Linked DNA regions of Homo sapiens: region 1 is linked to region 2. Evidence: fine-mapped expression QTL. A gene starts in region 2. The other region holds a variant in brackets. All regions are shown on one strand. Distances are between the middles of the regions.

Evidence for each region.
Region 1: its variant is fine-mapped to the expression of EIPR1 in lung (TOPMed, PIP above 0.99).

Annotation. Positions count from the first base shown.
Region 1 is chr2:3,398,117-3,407,899 of GRCh38, forward strand. It overlaps TRAPPC12 (trafficking protein particle complex subunit 12), which reads left to right. Exons shown (of 12, transcript NM_016030.6): 3 at 3,661-3,777. Among named protein-coding and RNA genes, the nearest start is that of TRAPPC12, 23 kb to the left of the region's middle. RefSeq lists enhancers at 930-1,855, 1,856-2,781, 2,782-3,705. The variant C/G (reference allele first, on the strand shown) is at 5,721.
Region 2 is chr2:3,371,081-3,380,817 of GRCh38, forward strand. It overlaps EIPR1 (EARP complex and GARP complex interacting protein 1), which reads right to left and starts at 6,738. Exons shown (of 9, transcript NM_003310.5): 1 at 6,568-6,738. The coding sequence starts at 6,609. TRAPPC12 (trafficking protein particle complex subunit 12) reads left to right here and starts at 8,614. Exons shown (of 12, transcript NM_016030.6): 1 at 8,614-8,796. RefSeq lists enhancers at 6,242-6,521, 6,542-6,721, 6,742-6,791, 7,063-7,579, 7,580-8,096 and silencers at 6,962-7,021, 8,585-8,634.

The DNA.
Region 1 (9,783 bases), 27 kb after region 2:
GACATTTGGGCTGTTTCTACCTTTTGGCTGTTGTGAGTAATGCTACTGTGAACATTCACACACAGGCGTTTGTGTCTATGTGTTCTCAGTGATCTGGGATGTATAGCTAGGTGTGGACTTGCTGGATTCTGTGGTAACTCTGTTCAACATTTTGAGGCCCCGCCAGACAGTTTTCTAAAATGGCTATTCCATGTTGACTCCCCACCAATGATGTGGTGTGTGAGGGTTCCAGTTGCTCCACATCCTTGAGTTTGGGTTTGGGTTTTAATTGTTGTGGTTTTTTTGTTCAGGTGGTCTCATTTTTCCCTGGAGTAAGCAAACACTGGATCAGAGGATAGACCCTGCCAGGATAAACAGGCACCTTTCTGCATTGGCGATGTGGCAGAAAGCTCAGCGTGTTCTGTGCCAGGTGCAGGGGCTGCTGCCTTTCAGCAGCGCTACCCCGTGAGCATTTGTGTCTTTGGGCTTCCCAGACAGTAAGGCCCATACGCTTTCAGTCCACTGCTCTGGCTTCTGTTTTGTCTTTCACCATCAAAATCAAGAAGGGACTACTGAGACTATTCCCCCATTGCAGGAAAGGCAGCCAGGCCCTAACCGCCTGTCAGCCGTGAGAACAGCCACTTGCTCCTCCATAAATGCACCTGACCAGGAGAATGGGGTGGCGACATCACGATGAGTCCCAGATTGTGATATATTCATGTGTTTCCTTCGTGTTCCCTGAACCTTGCCCTGGATAAAGTAGACCCTCACTGAATGGCTTGCTGGTCTGAAGGAATCATTGGTTCTAGCTGGATTCCATCCCAGGTGTAGTAGCACAGCTCTCTAGAAAGCCCTGGGGGAAGTTCCCTCCCCCTCCCACCTCCCCTGCACAGTAACGGCTAGAGGAGATGCAGTACAAGCGTCTCCACCTCCCTGCGCTGTCACCACCTTCAGTTAGCCACACAGCAAGGGCGAGGTTTGTCCTAAGACGCTTGTCACATCCTTGGCCCTCTGTTGGTGGGATATTTGATAGTCATGCATATGCTAGTATCTCAGGAACTTGCTGTGGTAGCTAAAATATTAACTAACAGAGAATTTTAAGGACAAGAGATTTTCACAGCATGGTCTCATTGATAATGTTGTGGGGATGGAGGAGTTGAATTGGCCCTCCGTCCCTGGCATTACAATTTGATTTTGCTCTTTACCCAGCTCGCTGCCCCCCTGGCTGAGATGCTCTTTGTCTGAGACGAGTTGCATTTTTGCAGAGCTTTATGGGGCCCTGTGTCTGAACTCTTTTATTTTGCCTTTTAATTATTGCTGCTAGATCAGTTAGCTGATTTTGTGGATCTGGTATTTGAAGTACTTCACCTTATGCTCTGAAAGCAGAAATTATACAACTGCTGCCCCTAGGTCTTTTCCTCAATGTGAGAAAACGTGAGGCTGGCCTCTGCGAGCACCAGGTTTAGCACCCAGGGAAGAGACAGACCTATGACCTGGAGCCACCCAGCCCCTTCTGCCGCAGGCTGTTGATCTCTCCTGGTAGAAGGGAGGCAGCAGAGCAGAGAAGCAATGTCAGCAGCTTTTCTGATTCTCTTGCTCTCATGGTCTAGATTCTGTTCTTCTTTTAAGTGTCACTATTTTGAAAGATAGCAAAAGATTGAAATAACCTTGCTTCTTAGGAGAAACAACTTCTATGCTTTTCTTTCCCCCGCTCCCCCCGCCACCGCCCCGCCGCCAAAAAAAAAAGGGTAGGAGAACAATAGGAAGAGATCTGAGCCAGCGGTGAAGTCCAGGCAGGGGGCACGCAGGCTTCTCTGCACCCTCAGTCACTGCGTGCTCCCAGTGGCCCGCCTGCAGCATGAGCATCAGCTTCTCTGTGGCTGGGAGGCAGCTTTGTGCTGAGATGGAGAGATCTTGGCTTTCTCCACCCCCCATCTTGGGGTTGTCCTAGTTTGAGTCTTTCTTCTGCTCACCCGAGAGACTGCAGGGACTTTGTGCTGTGTCCCTGTCAGCAGCTGCTGCGGGCCAGACGCCCAGAGCACGTGTCAGGGAAGATCCAGCCAGCTCCGGCTGCTTGCTGTCTCCAGGCATTTCAGGGACCTCAGAGCCACTGCTTCCTCCTCCCAGGATGCTCACTGTCTCTGGCATTTCAGGGACCTCAGAGCCACTGCTTCCTCCTCCCAGGATGCTCACTGTCTCTGGCGTTTCAGGGACCTCAGAGCCACTGCTTCCTCCTCCCAGGATACTCACTGTCTCTGGCGTTTCAGGGACCTCAGAGCCACTGCTTCCTCCTCCCAGGATACTCACTGTCTCTGGCGTTTCAGGGACCTCAGCGCTGCTTCCCTTTCCCCCTGGGCTGCTCTATCCCCCCAGCTGCCCCTGCCTCAGGTGTTTCAGGGACCTCAGTGCTGCTGCCCCTTCCCAGGTGCCTTTCCTCAGTCAGCAGCACCCCCAGAAAGGAGAGAGATGGTCCAGGGCTGTGTCCTGGTCCCAGCTGTGTGTGAGAGGCGTCTCCTGCCGCCCGTGGAGAGCATCGTGTCCTGTGAGCAGCCTTTACTTACCCTGGACTCTCCCTCGGCCTGCGGTGCAGCCACCGAAACAGCACTGAGGCCTGTGGACTGTGACAGTTTTCTCTGCACTGTTGGGATGACTAGTTTGTCCCCATACAACAGACTTGGTAACTTCAGGCCCTTCCCTGGGGCCCCTGAACTGTGCCGACTCCCGAGGGTCATGAAGGCTGGCTCGCCCAGCATCTGGGCTTGACACTAGCTGTGAGATTGCTCCCTGCTCAGGGCAGGTCATTGGCACATCTCTTCTGTCCCCAGGCCACACAAAAGCACCTGTTCTCCCTCCCCTTGCCCTTCTGTGTCTTCCCTTTAAAGCAAGTGGCATGCTTCAGATTCCACGTCCAGTGTTCTTCAGCACCGTCTAAAGATCGTTCTAATCAGAGGAGTCAGGTCAGGAGTAGAAACGGTCCCGTGCAGAGGCAACTGGATTCTTCCCTGGCTTGCAGCATGAAGTGCGCCCAGCAGCTCCTGGAGCAAGGCCTGGCTCAGCGAGGCTACCGAGGACCTGCTGTGAAAGGGGGTCTCAGTTTTCCTTTGGCTTGGCTGGTGACCTCAGCACTGAAGAGAGGGCCATTGGTAATTTAACTTCTTTAGCCCTAGCCCTCCAGGCTTTCCTGGAGGTCCAGGCAAGCATGGAGGCATTGATGAGATTTGGGAAGACTATTCAGGCCTGCCTGCACCAGCGCGAGGCTGGCCACTGTGGGTGCAGCCCCTGGTCCCCAGCAGTGTCACCTTCATGCTCCTGGGCCTCCCTAGGCCCCTCACCTGAGGCCTCTCTGCTGGCTTGGCTTTGCCTCTCACTACAAGCCTGGTAGTAGGCGGTAGGACTTACCGTTTCCTCTTCAGAATAAAGAACATGCTTTCTGATCAGTGGTGAATAAAGATATAATTTTTAAAATAAAAAGAATAAAGAGCAATTCTAAAATTATGCATTTTATTAACGATTGTGCTAATTTAGCTTCTGGTTAATTGAAGTTTTACGATACTATAACCGTTACTTTTACCTCCACAAGCCAGTGGAGAAAAAAGAAATTGTGTTTAGTTATGGGTTCTGGTTAGCTGAGTTTAGTTGACATTTTATTGTCTTGACATATTTTTCTTCTATTCTTCCCAGGGAGATGCAGTTAAAGACTTGATGCTTCGCTTTCTGGGTGAAAAAGCTGCAGCAAAGAGACAAGTCCTAAATGCCGACTCAGTGGAACAATCTTTTGTTGGATTGAAACAGCTAATCGTAAGTGACAATGTGTTTGATTTCAGTGTTGTTTTGTGATAAGTCCTGCCTGCCTTCATAATATTTTCTCTAGAAGTCAATTATTTTGAATATTATTCAAAGCTCTTGCACATAAGTAGAATTTTGTTGGAGTAGATGCCAGTCCTGTGCACCAAAAAGCATCATATTAATACATGGATACTTTTAAGCCTAATTAGTTAAAAAGCCATTATTGGAAATGATCAAATTACTCAAAGCAGTGCATACTTTGATTGAGTTTGCTTCATCATATATAATAGAGATAAATGATTTGTGTTCATTTTTTAAATATATTGCATTTTCTGCATTTTGTGTAGAAAGTTTATTATTGAATGGGTGAATTTCTGAACATTTTTAAGCTTTGTCATGAATTCTATAAGTAGGTTTTTAAAATTCATGGCTGGGCGCAGTGGCTCACACCTGTAATCCCAGCACTTTGGGAGGCCAAGGCGGGCAGATCACAAGGTCAGGAGTTCAAGACCAGCCTGGCCAACATGGTGAACCCCATCTCTACTAAAAATACAAAAATTAGCTGGGCATGGTGGTGCGTTCCTGTAATCCCAGATACTCAGGAGGCTGAGGCAGGAGAATCGCTTGAACTGGGACCCGGGAGGTGGAGGTTGCAGTGAGCCGAGATCACACCACTGCCACTCCAGCCTCGGCTACAGAGCGAGACTCCGTCTCAAAAAAATAAAAATAAAAAAACATTAGTACTGGATCACCATTGCTGTACAGGTTGATTTGTTTCCAATGAATTTATAATCTTAAAGACAGCTGTAATTGCGTTGGGTAGCTTTTCTAGATTAAGGAGAAGATATTGGAAGTTTGTCGCGTATGTTTCCTTCAGGAATCCTATGGTAGCCATGGGGTAAGTACTCTGAAATGAGAGCCCCATCTCACACCGAATCTCAGCTCCCCAGTGTTGTCTCCTTAGGGGGCTGTGGAATTGCTCTGCTAGCTCATCCACACGGTTGCCTAGAGTGGACTTAGCAAAGCCATGCTCCCATGCCTGCATGCAGTCAAGTTAGTGGGCACACTTTCTTGAAGGGGTTTGGAGAGTGAGGTCCTTGATTTTGGGAATAAGTCCCACCGGCTGTCTGAAACTCATGTTGAAATGCGCCCTTATCCTGACTGTATTTCAGCGGCACATGGTCCAGACACTCTCCATTTGGGTGAACAATCTGGAGGACATGTATTCACCTTTCAACTTTCAAAAAAGAGAATGGAATTTCCTAATTTACTTATTTTTCTAATAGTTCCCCATCTTGTTTTTCTCAATTGTTACTAATTCTTCTGCACCGGGCTTCAGATTTCACCAATTTTTTTTTTTTTTTTTTTGAGATGGAGTTTCACTCTTGTTGCCCAGGCTGGAGTGCAATGGCGTGATCTCAGCTCACTGCAACCTCCACCTCCCGGGTTCAAGTGATTCTCCTGCCTCAGCTTCCCGAGTAGCTGGGATTACAGGCGTGCACCACCACACCCGGCTAATTTTTTGTATTTTTAGTAGAGACAGGGTTTCACCATGGCCAGGCTGGTCTTGAACTCCTGACCTCAGGTGATCCGCCTGCCTCACCCTCCCAGAGTGCTGGGATTATAGGCGTGAGCCACCGCACCCGACCAGATTTCACCTATTTTAAGCAAACTTTAGTTCCTAAAGATATAATAGTTGAGAAGTTTAGAAATTTCTGGAGGATTAAACTTTGCAGCCCATTGAAATGACAGGTGAAGGTTAGCCTGTGAACTAAAACAGAAAATGAGAATGTTTTAAAGTTTATTTTGGAGTAGCGCGTGGCTCAGTCCCAGCTCAGAGGCAACTGTCTTTTGTGTGAAAACAGTAATATGTAAATCACTTACTTGCAAGAAGACTACAGTGAAGTTCAGAAGAAAATAATCCCAGTTCCTTTTTTGTTACATCACCTCTGCCT[C/G]TGTATTTGAAAGTGAGGTATAGCCTGTCCCCATTCTGCCAGAAATGACTGATGTTTGTGAGGCTGAAATCCTGAGCCAGGAGAGGAGTGATTTCTTGATCTTTAACAGGAGCATTTAACAAAGTAACAAAATTTTTTCCTTAATTGACTAGTTCTCTTGAATTCAGACAAATCCTTATTATGTGTGGTCTTGTGACTTCTGTGACACTTTAGAAGCTTTCCTGGGTTCAGTATGGATTGGGGACTGCCTGCTACGCTGACCGGGCCACCTGGAACCCCTTTGCCTGGGGCCTGGCTCCCGGCTGTGATGACCCAGATCGCGGTTGTGTGAGGGCCTTTCCGAAGCATGGGTGGGGGCTGTACTCTGCTGTGAGGTCGCGCAGGGACATCGTGCCCTGGGTTCCTGGATTTTCTAGTCCCTCTCTTCTGATTTTAAACTTCTCTTTGACTTTCTACTTTCTAGTGTTCTATTGTCAGCAGATCTCTTGCTTCCTAAGAGAGCCTAAAGGAAAAAATATAGAATCCTCCCCATTTTACTCAAAAGTCAGTTTCTTATATTCTTCTCGATCTTGATTTTTAACTTCCTTTGATCCCTGATCTTTTTCCCAAAAAAATCTTTTTTTGGAGTTTTGCCCAAAAAGCCTGTTTTTGAGAAAGTACCGAACATTGGCAAAGCAGCCTTAGTTACTTGGATTTTATCCTGACTTCATTATATGCATGAACTGGGAGGTGACATGTCATCAGTGTCAATAACAAATGCTGTAACTTGGGGGAGACAGAGCCAACCTACAAAAATTAAAAATCTGTAATAAACACCGTGACAGTCAGGAAGCGTGTCTTGTTCACCAGTGCATCTGAGGACCCAGCACGGTCAGGCACAGAATGGGTACACGGCGTCTTCTTGAGTAAATAAAGGGATGAGGGAATGAATAGATAAGAGAACCCCCAGTCGGTAAGCTACTCTTTTGATAAAGAAGTAGCGTCAGAATGTTGGGTTTAAAGAAATAGAGAAGGAGCTCATACAAAAGGATAGAGTGGGGGGCGGTTACGGGGGAGGGGGCGCAAAGAGTGAGGAGATGAAACCACAAGAAGATTAGTCTGGAGAAAGATGGAACATTTCTTCCTCTGCAATGACAGAAAAGGAAAGGAAGGATTTGAAAGGAATGAAAATCGAATCCAGCACATTTTCAAACTGTGATTCTGAGAACCCTCGGGTTCCAGGGAGGGACCTTGGGGTGACTGGGCATGGCCTGCGGAGGTGACTTGGTAGGGCCAGTGTCAGGCAGAGCATTTCAGCAGGGTCTACTTTATGTAGAAGTCTCTCTTGAGATGTCTTTTTTTGGGGGGGTGGGGGGAAAGGAGGATGAATTTTACTATTTAAAAATTTGAAAAACTAACATAGTCCAAAATGCCCGCTTTGTAGATTAGAACACTAAGATCTACAAAGGTGTAGAGGTTGGCCCCAAACAAATGTCCTTGCTCCTGTTACCAGTACCATCCCTACTGCCCCATGTCCCTTACACAGTCCGCACAGCCCAGCAAAAAGCACAGTTGCTGGTGTTGGTTTTGCTCATTGACTACCTCCCACCAAATGACTTAGTATTTCTGAACCGTCGGATCTACACACCGTGGGAATTACGCTTTTCAATACAGCTTCTAGGACTGGATTGTATCCAGGGGTAGGATTTCCCATGAGAAGACCTTATATCTGATGGGATTCAAACAAACAAGTTCTCACTTGTGTTTCTTAGTGTATTCATTGAGCAAACACATATTAAGCCTCTTCTCTTTCCAGCAATAACAATAAAGGTTGCTAAGCTAGTGCTCTTGCTCCGTGAAGTTCTGCCTTCTTAACCATTTATGGGATTTACTCAGATTTAGAAGTGCTATTCTATTATTTTTAATTTACTTATTGCTGACTTGAAGCTCATACACTATTTTTAAAAGAAGTATATATTCCAGATTCACAAATTTATTGTAACTCTTATGATTCTTCATCAGTGTCTTCAGACACAGACACAAATTCAGCTGCACTCCTAACCCATGGCAGTGAAGTTTCTCTTTTCTCTCCTCATGCCCTGAATCCACTTCCCATAGGGAAGCTGCTTGTACTACATCTTGAATACCAGTTCCCACAACCCTGCTTCTGTAACTGGCGGGAATCCCGAGAGCTCCAGCATGAATCCCTCAGGCCTCTTGCCCCAGAGCAAAGTTCCCAGCTGTTCCCTGACTTGCAGAGACTGAAGGACCCTTCCAGACTCAGAGAAGCCAAACCTTCCCCAGAGACGCTTCCCTCTCCTCCTTCCTCTGCACCACGCTCCCCAAGCTGTGGAACTGTCACTCACATGGTCACGCAACATACACACACAGGTCTGTACTCATTAACTCGGAGTAAGCGCAAAAACCCAGGCAGAGACCCTCTCCTAAAATAGAAGCAGGAAATTATCTTAGGTGTAGGTGTTTGCTGTCTGAATCCTCTGGTAGCCTGTGAACCACTGGAAACTATGCTCCCCAAATTGCCTTTCTTCCCCACGTTCTTTACCGTATTTACAGAAGCGTGTCCTCAAAAAGGTAAACAAGCATCCCTTGCTTACCTTCACACATCACACCAAGTTTAAATGTGAGTCAATGTCAGTCGAATGCTTCTTTGAGTTTCTTTTACCAAAGTGATTCTGTAATTATTTCTATGATTAGAAAGCTTTGGAGAGGAGAGAGATGGAGATACTCTTTTTTAAAGGGGAAAAAACAGCTAATTTGTAAGTATCTGTATCCTTTATAATTTGCTAATGCAGTTACGGATCTCCAGGGTGGCCATTTCCCTGGCCCATGCTCTGTTCCCAAGGGTGTGGGCGTGGCCCCTTGGTTTGGCCATGGGGAAGCTGCTGTGATGTATCCTCTTGAGGCAGGAACTGAACTGGCAGCATGACAGGGCTTTATAATAATGGGTTTAAAAATCACACACAAAGCCATGCATGTTAATTATAATTAATTTTTTCTACAGGCTATTTTTTACCCTCTTTGATCGTTCCTGTTATTAATAAATATATACAATGGTTTGATGTGTTTCATACGTTGGAAATACTTGAGACCATCAGAAATTTTATTAACAGGCCTAACAAGGGAGCTTACGTAAGGTGAAAAATGTATTTATGAAAGGATCTTTACCTTGCCCTGGTATTTTAATTCTAGTGTGTCCTAAAATAATTCGTGTTGTCTTTAAGGCAGCCAGGAAAGGGTTTTTGAATTATTTCCCTAAGTTATGTCAGAGTTTCCTAAGATTGTAATTTACAGGGAAATGGATGTCACAGCCTGGGAGAAGGACGTGTTAATCACTTTAATGGTATCATATGTAGAGGTAATAATTCCCTTTGAGTCTTAGATGGAGAAAAGTTATGTACATGCCATTAGTTACTTGAGTGATTTTTATTAGACTATTTTTCTCATCATTTGGAAATTGTGTAATGCCTACGTTCAGTTTTTCAAATAGACCCTGTATCGTACTCCTAGCAAAAAAACGTAAAAGTAGTTTTTATCTAAAATCTTTATCTCATATCAGACTAACTTCATTATTAGAATTTTACATGTCATGTACAGTAATTATGAGATTTTCATAAGATTTCTTTCACAAAGTTTAAAGTTTTATGTGGTATACTTTAGATTCTGATTTTAAAAATAGTTTCTTTGCTTCATATTTCTGACATCTATCATTGAAAATAGAGGAGGGGGGAGGCCGAGGCGGGCAGATCACGAGGTCAGGAGATCGAGACCATCCTGGCTAACACGGTGAAACCCCATCTCTACTAAAAATACAAAAAATTAGCCGGGCGTGGTGGCGGGTGCCTGTAGTCCCAGCTACCCGGGAGGCTGAGGCAGGAGAATGGTCTGGGAGGCAGAGCTTGCAGTGAGCCAAGATCACGCCACTGCACTCCAGCCTGGGCGACAGAGCAAGACTCCGTTTCAAAAAAAGAAAAAAAAGAAAAAGAAAATGGAGGAGGGCCACCAGGAAGGGGAATAAGGTGGAAAATAATAAGATAAAAATAGCAAAAAACACACTAAGAAAATA
Region 2 (9,737 bases):
ATTCAACATTCTTAAAGAAAATAATTTTCAACCCAGAATTTCATATCCAGCCAAATTAAGCTTCATAAGTGAAGGAGAAATAAAATACTTTACAGACAAGCAAATGCTGAGAGGTTTTGCCACCACCAGGCCTGCCCTAAAAGAGCTCCTGAAGGAAGCACTAAACATGGAAAGGCATAACCGTACCAGCCGCTGCAAACTCATGCCAAAATGTAAAGACCATCGACATTAGGAAGAAACTGCATCAACTAACAAGCAAAATAACCAGCTAACAGCATGACAGGATCAAATTCACACATAATATTAACCTTAAATGTAAATGCACTAAATGCTCCAATTAAAAGACACAGACTGGCAAATTGGATAAAGAGTCAAGACCCATCAGTGTGCTGTATTCAGGAAGCCCATCTCACGTGCAGAGACACACATAGGCTCAAAATAAAAGGATGGAGGAAGATCTACCAAGCAAATGGAAAACAAAAAAAGGCAGGGGTTGCAATCCTAGTCTCTGATAAAACACACTTTAAACCAACAAAGATCAAAAGAGACAAAGAAGCCCATTACTTAAGGGTAAAGGGATCAATTCAACAACAAGAGCTAACTATCCTAAATATATATGCACCCAATACAGGAGCACCCAGATTCATAAAGTAAGTCCTGAGTGACCTACAAAGAGACTTAGACTCCCACACAATAATAATGGGAGACTTTAACACCCCACTGTCAACATTAGACAGATCAACGACACAGAAAGTTAAAAAGGATACCCAGGAATTGAACTCAGCTCTGCACCAAGCGGACCTAATAGATATCTACAGAACTCCCCACCCCAAATCAACAGAATATACATTTTTTTCAGCACCACGCCACACCTATTCCAAAATTGACCACATAGTTGGAAGTAAAGCTCTCCTCAGCAAATGTAAAAGAACAGAAATTATAACAAACTATCTCTCAGACAACAGTGCAATCAAACTAGAACTCAGGATTAAGAAACTCATTCAAAACCGCTCAACTACATGGAAACTGAACAACCTGCTCCTGAATGACTACTGGGTACATAATGAAATGAAGGCAGAAATAAAGATGTTCTTTGAAACCAATGAGAACAAAGACACAACATACCAGAATCTCTGGGACACATTCAAAGCAGTGTGTAGAGGGAAATTTATAGCACTAAATGCCCACAAGAGAAAGCAGGAAAGATCCAAAATTGACACCTAACATCACAATTAAAAGAACTAGAAAAGCAAGAGCAAACACATTCAAAAGCTAGCAGAAGGCAAGAAATAACTAAAATCAGAGCAGAACTGAAGGAAATAGAGACACAAAAAACCCTTCAAAAAATTAATGAATCCAGGAGCTGGTTTTTTGAAAGGATCAACAAAATTGATAGACCGCTAGCAAGACTAATAAAGAAAAAAAGAGAAGAATCAAATAGACGCAATAAAAAATGACGAAGGGGATATCACCACCAATCCCACAGAAATACAAACTACCATCAGAGAATACTACCAACACCTCTACGCAAATAAACTAGAAAATCTAGAAGAAATGGATAAATTCCTCAACACATACACTCTCCCAAGACTAAACCAGGAAGAAGTTGAATCTCTGAATAGACCAATAATAGGATCTGAAATTGTGGCAATAATCAATAGCTTACCAACCAAAAAGAGTCCAGGACCAGATGGATTCACAGCCGAATTCTACCAGAGGTATAAGGAGGAACTGGTACCATTCCTTCTGAAACTATTCCAATCAATAGAAAAAGAGGGAATCCTCCCTAACTCATTTTATTAGGCCAGCATCATCCTGATACCAAAGCCGGGCAGAGACACAACCAAAAAAGAGAATTTTAGACCAATATCCTTGATGAACATTGATGCAAAAATCCTCAATAAAATACTGGCAAACTGAATCCAGCAGCACATCAAAAAGCTTATCCACCATGATCAAGCGGGCTTCATCCCTGGGATACAAGGCTGGTTCAATCTACGCAAATCAATAAATGTAATCCAGCATATAAACAGAACCAAAGACAAAAACCATATGATTATCTCAATAGATGCAGAAAAGGCCTTTGACAAAATTCAACAACGCTTCATGCTAAAAACTCTCAATAAATTAGGTATTGATGGGAAGTATCTCAAAATAATAAGAGCTATCTATGACAAACCCACAGCCAATATCATACTGAATGGGCAAAAACTGGAAGCATTCCCTTTGAAAACTGGCACAAGACAGGGATGCCCTCTCTCACCACTCCTATTCAACATAGTGTTGGAAGTTCTGGCCAGGGCAATTAGGCAGAAGGAAATAAAGGCTATTCGATTAGGAAAAGAGGAAGTCAAATTGTCCCTGTTTGCAGACGACATGATTGTATATCTAGAAAACCCCATTGTCTCAGCCCAAAATCTCCTTAAGCTGATAAGCAACTTCAGCAAAGTCTCAGGATACAAAATCAATGTACAAAAATCACAAGCATTCTTATACACCAATAACAGACAAACAGAGAGCCAAATCATAAGTGAACTCCCATTCACAATTGCTTCAAAGAGAATAAAATACCTAGGAATCCAACTTGCAAGGCACATGAAGGACCTCTTCAAGGAGAACTACAAACCACTGCTCAATGAAATAGAAGAGAATACAAACAAATGGAAGAACATTCCATGCTCATGGGTAGGAAGAATCAATATCGTGAAAATGGCCATACTGCCCAAGGTAATTTATAGATTCAATGCCATCCCCATCAAGCTACCAATGACTTTCTTCACAGAATTAGAAAAAACTACTTTAAAGTTCATATGGAACCAAAAAAGAGCCCTCATCGCCAAGTCAATCCTAAGCCAAAAGAACAAAGCTGGAGGCATCACGCTACCTGACTTCAAACTATACTACAAGGCTACAGTAACCAAAACAGCATGTTACTGGTACCAAAACAGAGATACAGATCAATGGAACAGAACAGAGCCCTCAGAAATAATGCCGCATATCTACAACTATCTGATCTTTGACAAACCTGACAAAAACAAGCAATGGGGAAAGGATTCCCTATTTAATAAATGGTGCTGGGAAAACTGGCTAGCCATATGTAGAAAGCTGAAACTGGATCCCTTCCTTACACCTTATACAAAAATTAATTCAAGATGGAATAAAGACTTAAACGTTAGACCTAAAACCATAAGAACCCTAGAAGAAAACCTAGGCATTACCATTCAGGACATAGGCATGGGCAAGGACTTCATGTCTAAAACACCAAAAGCAATGCCAACAAAAGCCAAAATTGACAAATGGGATCTCATTAAACTAAAGAGCTTCTGTACAGCAAAAGAAACTACCAACAGAGTGAACAGGCAACCTACAAAATGGGAGAAAATTTTCACAACCTGCTCATCTGACAAAGGGCTAATATCCAGAATCTACAATGAACTCAAACAAATTTACAAGAAAAAAACAAAAAACCCCATCAAAAAGTGGGCAAAGGATATGAGCAGACACTTCTCAAAAGAAGACATTTATGCAGCCAAAAGACACATGAAAAAATGCTCATCATCACTGGCCATCAGAGAAATGCAAATCAAAACCACAATGAGATACCATCTCACACCAGTTAGAATGGCAATCATTAAAAAGTCAGGAAACAACAGGTGCTGGAGAGGATGTGGAGAAATAGGAACACTTTTACACTGTTGGTGGGACTGTAAACTAGTTCAACCATTGTGGAAGTCAGTGTGGCGATTCCTCAGGGATCTAGAACCAGAAATACCATTTGACCCAGCCATCCCATTACTGGGTATATACCCAAAGGACTATAAATCATGCTGCTATAAAGACACATGCACACGTATGTTTATTGCGGCACTATTCACAATAGCAAAGACTTGGAACCAACCCAAATGTCCAACAATGATAGACTGGATTAAGAAAATGTGGCACATATACACCATGGAATACTATGCAGCCATAAAAAATGATGAGTTCATGTCCTTTGTAGGGACGTGGATGAAATTGGAAATCATCATTCTCAGTAAACTGTCGCAAGGACAAAAAACCAAACACTGCATGTTCTCACTCACAGATGGGAATTGAACAATGAGAACACATGGACACAGGAAGGGGAACATCACACTCTGGGGACTGTTGTGGGGTGGGGGGAGGGGGGAGGGATAGCATTAGGAGATATACCTAATGCTGAATGACGAGTTAATGGGTGCAGCACACCAGCATGGCACATGTATACATATGTAACTAACTGGCACATTGTGCACATGTACCTTAAAACTTAAAATATAATAATAATTTAAAAAAAAAAGAGAGAAAAAAAAGAAAATAACATTTCAGTTAACCTCAAAGATACAATACTGAAGATAAAATCCTCTGGGTTTTTTGAGAGATTTCTTAAGGAGATCAAGAAGTTAAATTAAGTAGCACTGGCAGAGTATGCATCTTCAGGTAGTACAAGATTATAGAACCTTCTATCTACCCATGTGGTCTCTCCCTGTGTATCCCTATGTGTATCTAGTTAAAGAGAAAGCAGTAGAACTTAGCAGGTAAGGGGACTCGAGGTCAGTTTGGGTTGAAAGTCTAAGTAGGTCAGAATCCAAGGTCTATCATTTACTAGTTAAGTGGCCTTGGACAGGTAACTATTCTCTCTGAGGCTGTCTCTTCATCCGTAAAACAGGAACAATAACACCTACCAATAATGATTGCTGTGAGAATTAAATGAAATATTTGTACAGTGCTAAGCAGAGTGTCTGACACATAGTCCAGAGCTAAATCACTGGTAGTTAAGCTATCAGTCTTGTGAATGTGATATAGCCACTGGTCAAATCCTATAGCACAGTTTATTATACAGGACACTTAACTGCTGCCCTGTATAAAATTTATTTGTAAGAATTTTGTCTTAGGCAGGGTGCGGTGGCTCATGACTATAATCCCAGCACTTTGGGAGGCCAAGGAGGGCAGATCACTTGAGCTCAGGAGTGTGAGACCAGCCTGGGCAACATGGCGAAACCCCATTTCTACAAAGGAAAAAAAAGGAATTTTCTCTCATTATAACAATTAGAACAACAATTATTGAACACACTATGCACCAGGCACTGTTCTACGTGATTCAATTAAGTGTATTAACTCATTTAATTTCATAACAGCCATGAGGTGGGGGGGAGGGAGATGCATATTTTATTGGCAAGGAAACCGAGGCCCAAGGTCACATAGTTAATAAGTGCTAGAGGCAGGATTTAAAACTTAGGTGTCTGGGTGGCATATGTTATTCTACTAACACTGCTGCCTCTCTGACTGTAACCTACTTAAAAACAGACATTGGCCAGGTGCGGTGGCTCACGCCTGTAATCCCAACACTTTGGGAGGCTGAGGCAGGCAGATCACAAGGTCAGGAGTTCAAAACCAGCCAGGCCAAGATGGTGAAACCCCGTATCTACTAAAAATACAAAAATTAGTCGGGCGTGGTGGCGGGTGCCTGTAATCCCAGCTACTTGGGAGGTTGAGGCAGGAGAATCACTTAAACCCGGGAGGCGGAGGTTGCAGTGAGCCGAGGTCACGCCACTGCACTCTAGCCTGGGCAACGGAGCAAGACTCCATCTCAAAAAAAAAAAAAAAAAGCAGACATCATTTATATCTTTAACACATACTGCTGCACAAAATTATGTATCAAGTATTTCATATGGCAGTGAACTGTGTTTCTATCTCTCTATCTGTCCCTCAGTGCTTTAGGCATAACACATTCTCAAAAGCTACTTGAATAGATGAAAACCAGGACAGGGCTCTAACAGGCCCTACACAATCCTCATCTTCCTCCCCCGCTCATCTCATCCCCTACCTCATTCCCCCTGACGCATTTACTCTATCCACGGCAGCTTTCTTGCTGTCCTGAACTACCATGTGCATTGCTTATGCTCTGGGGGCTCATTCGGTTCATAGTCATTTGTTGAACACCTACTATGTGACAGTCATGAAAAGGCACTGGAAAATACAAGGTAAAAAACTAGTGTGAAAACAGTTGAATCCGAAGACAGTCTGTGGTTTACTGAATATTAGTGTACCAATGTTAATTTCTAAGCTGTGATAAATGTACGATGGTTATGTAAAGTGTTAACATTAAGGGAAGCTGGGTGGAGGGTAAAGAAGAACTTTCTATGTATTTTTACAACTCTTCTAAATACTTTAAATTGTTTCAAAATCAAACATTTTTATTTTAAACAACATACAGTTCCTACCTTCAGGAACTCAAATTCTAGAGGAAAAGGTGGGCGTGTAAATAAATGAGTCCACCAAAGTGAGTGATAACTTCCAGGTCAGAAGTCATGTTCGGGACAGGATGTGAAGGGGAAGGAGGCAGGCCGGCTGTGGCCAACCCTGTTATCCAGTACAACCGTTTAACCTCCTAAAGCCTCAGTTTACTTCTCTGCAAAATGGGAACTAGGGAACAGACACGGGTCCTTGCAGGGCTGGTGGGAGATCTGCAAACCGAAGTCACCATGGGACCGCGCATGCTATCAACAGCCAGGCCGAGCAGCACCTGCCGCCCTCCCAGTGACCCACCTGGAACTCCAGCCCGTAGATCACTGGTGCATCGTCCTCCATGCTGCGGGGAAGCGACCCGACCCCGGCCACTCACACGCTAAGGACCTCGCTACGGCCGGCGCGTCCCCACCTCGCGGGCGTGTTCCCAGCGCCCATTCATTCCCTCCCCGCAGCAAACGACTCCAAACTGGAAGTCTTTCTGGCCCAGAACAGCTTCCGTAGTGGCCACTTCCTATTTTTCGGATGTGTCATCAATCTGTTCCTCACCAGCGACCAATGGCAGCGGCGCTGGCTTGTGCGCATGGCCACTTGGGCTCACATCCGGGCTCTCAGCGCGGGGACTCCTGGAGGTGAGAACCCGGCCCAGAGGAAATAAGTTGGTGGGCGGAGCGGGCCGCGGAGGCCGGCTGTGGGTGGAGGCCGGCTCCGAGCGCAGGCCGTCGGGAGCAAGCGGCGATTAGCCTTAGCTAGCCATCGCATCTAAGAATCGCTCACGCCGTAGTTGGGCGCCGCCATGTATTGTCATTTGTATGTACTTGGCGTTCCTGAGCGCTGGGCCAGCGCTTCACACGCACTGCCATAAGGAGCTTCATCCAACCCTATGAATAAGCTGTTACACTTCCATTTTACCGATGAGACGCTGCAAAGTTGAGTAACACAGTCGCAGCGCTCATTGGTCCATTGGGTAGCCAGGATGGGCACCTGAGCTGACTCCCTTAGGTTCGGCCCAAGGTGCCCTAAGTCAGGGCCATGCCTAATGCATTTCTGCAGGTGCCCAGCACTGTGTGGCAAAGAAAGCACTACCAAGGATGGGGTTATGAAAGCCGGCACCGCACCACTGGTGGTCCTGGACTGCATATGCCTCCGAATGGGAGTCGGAAGGGAAGGCCCTGGGGTTCCTAGAGGTCTCCAAAGACTAAAGACTTGTGGTGGAGAGACTGCCCCTCTTTCGCATCCTGCTCAAAGTGCCTGCCCTGGCCTTGGGCCAGCAGAAATGGCATCGCAAGGACTCCAAAATACATCATAGCTGAACCACGCCGCTAGCCTGGTTCCACCGGGGCTTCCAGGACCACGCACCTTTCCTCCATTTCTGTGATTAGCTTTCCCCTCTACCCTTTATTGATCTCCGTGACGGAAATGGTTGGGTCTCGTTTTGCTCAGTTGGGCAAGGCGCGTGGTATTGAGTTAAGGCTGGATGAGTATCTGTTGAGTGTATGAAATTTTAGAGATTACATGAGAAATCAAATGAGCAGGCCGGGCGCGGTGGCTCACGCTTGTAACCCCAGCATTTTGGGAGGCTGAGGAGGGTGGATCACAAGGTCAGTTCGAGACCTGCCTGGCCAACACAGTGAAACCCCGTCTCTACTAAAAATACGAAACTTAGCCCAGCGTGGTGGCACGCGCCTGTAATCCCAGCTACTCGGGAGGCTGAGGCAGGAGAATCGCTTGAACCCGGGAGGCGGAGGTTGCAGTGAACCGAGATCGCGCCACTGCACTCCAGCCTGGGCGACAGAGCCAGAGTCGGTCAAAAAAAAAGAAAAGAAAAGAAAGAAATCAAGTAAGCAAAAACAAGAAAGAAAGAAATCAAGTAAGCAATGGCCCAGACATGAGAATCATCCTATTCAACCACTCTGTTTGCCGATATTAACTTGCGGAGCTAAGAGGGCCTTCATACTTCGGGATTAAACCCACCCATCTATCACTGATATCTTTATCATTAATTTTATTATACAAGTACTGCAGGTGCATGGTAAGAAACTTACAAAATACAGATAAACACAAAGACAAATCCATAGAAACACTGATTTCTAGGATATGCTGGTCAATAAAAATAGCCTAAGCGACTCCCTTTCACCCGCCCCATCTGCCACAGGCTTGCCTATTGCCTCTGAGTGACAGAATCAGGCTAGGTGGAGTGGAGTCTCCGTTCCCATTTCCAAGTACAGGGTCCGCTCCCCTCAACTACCGGCTCCTGGTTGCCTGTGCGCGTTCACACCTAGGGCTCCAGGCCCCGCCCACAGCAGACGAACCGGAAACGAACCCCATTTCCGGCCTGGGGGCAGGGCCTCGGGTTCCTGCATCGGGCCTGAGCAGAACTAGGCGCGCCGCGGCCCGGCACGCGCAGGCGTACAGAGCTCCCCGGGGGTGCCAGTTCCTCTCCGATTCCCGGCTTCTGTCACCTTCCTCACGGACCTTGGTCACGGCCGCAGGTGACCCCTTAGCCCAGCTCCAGTGGGCGGGTGGCAGGTGAGGATCAGGGCCTCGGCAGTCCAGAGGGGATGGGACCGTGTAGCGCCACCTCGGGGAGGGAGCACACTGGCTTTGGCCTCAGCCCGGAGGGACCTTCTCTGGGACCGATGCTAGAGTGGGCGTGGGGTCCGGGCGCGGGGTCGCCTGCCACCCAAGGGCGTGTGTGCTCCGCGGGCCTTGTGCCAGGCTCCACGTCGCCGCGGCCCTTGCTCTCCACGTCTGCAGAGGGCTGGAAGCGTCTCTGCAGCCCGCGGAGTTTGCGGGAAGGGGAAGCTGCTGCGAAGCGTGTGGGAAACTACCCGCTGGCGCGCGCCCAGGCGTCCCCGAGACCCCCAGTTCCAGGCTTGGTGCCAGCCAGGCCCCCAGCAAGCCCCTTAACTTCCCTTAGACTTAATTCACCCTCCCGCGGAAAGAGGTTACTAATGACCTGCCCTGCCAAACTCAGCATTGTGAGGCTGCAATGCAGTGTAAAAGCATTTGAGTCACTGTGTAAACGTCCGCTGTTGCTACACATACTAATTGTAGAGTATATTTACTGTGAAGACCGAAAAAGCGTTTATTCAACAGAAAGCGTTAGGGTCAAAGATGTGTTTTAACGTGTCATTTTTTCACTCTTCACTACGAAACAGTGTAGCCCCAAGGAAAAATTTTCTTGGACCTACGGTTTGTACTTTTTAATGGCTACTTGAAGATATGGTGTCTTTGGATTCAGTCACTGTTCGCAAATTCAGAAGATAGTGGCGGATAATGAGCCAGTCCCGTCTTGGGATTGGGGTGGGAGAGGGACAGGGGAAAAGCAAATGAAATATTACACAGTGTTACTCATTCAGTTCTTACATTTTGTGATATCTGATGGGATCTTCTTCACAGTTACTAAACTGGGTGTTGCCACTCTGCTTTATCATTAAAATGATAATTACTATGCTTGTGTCTGTGCA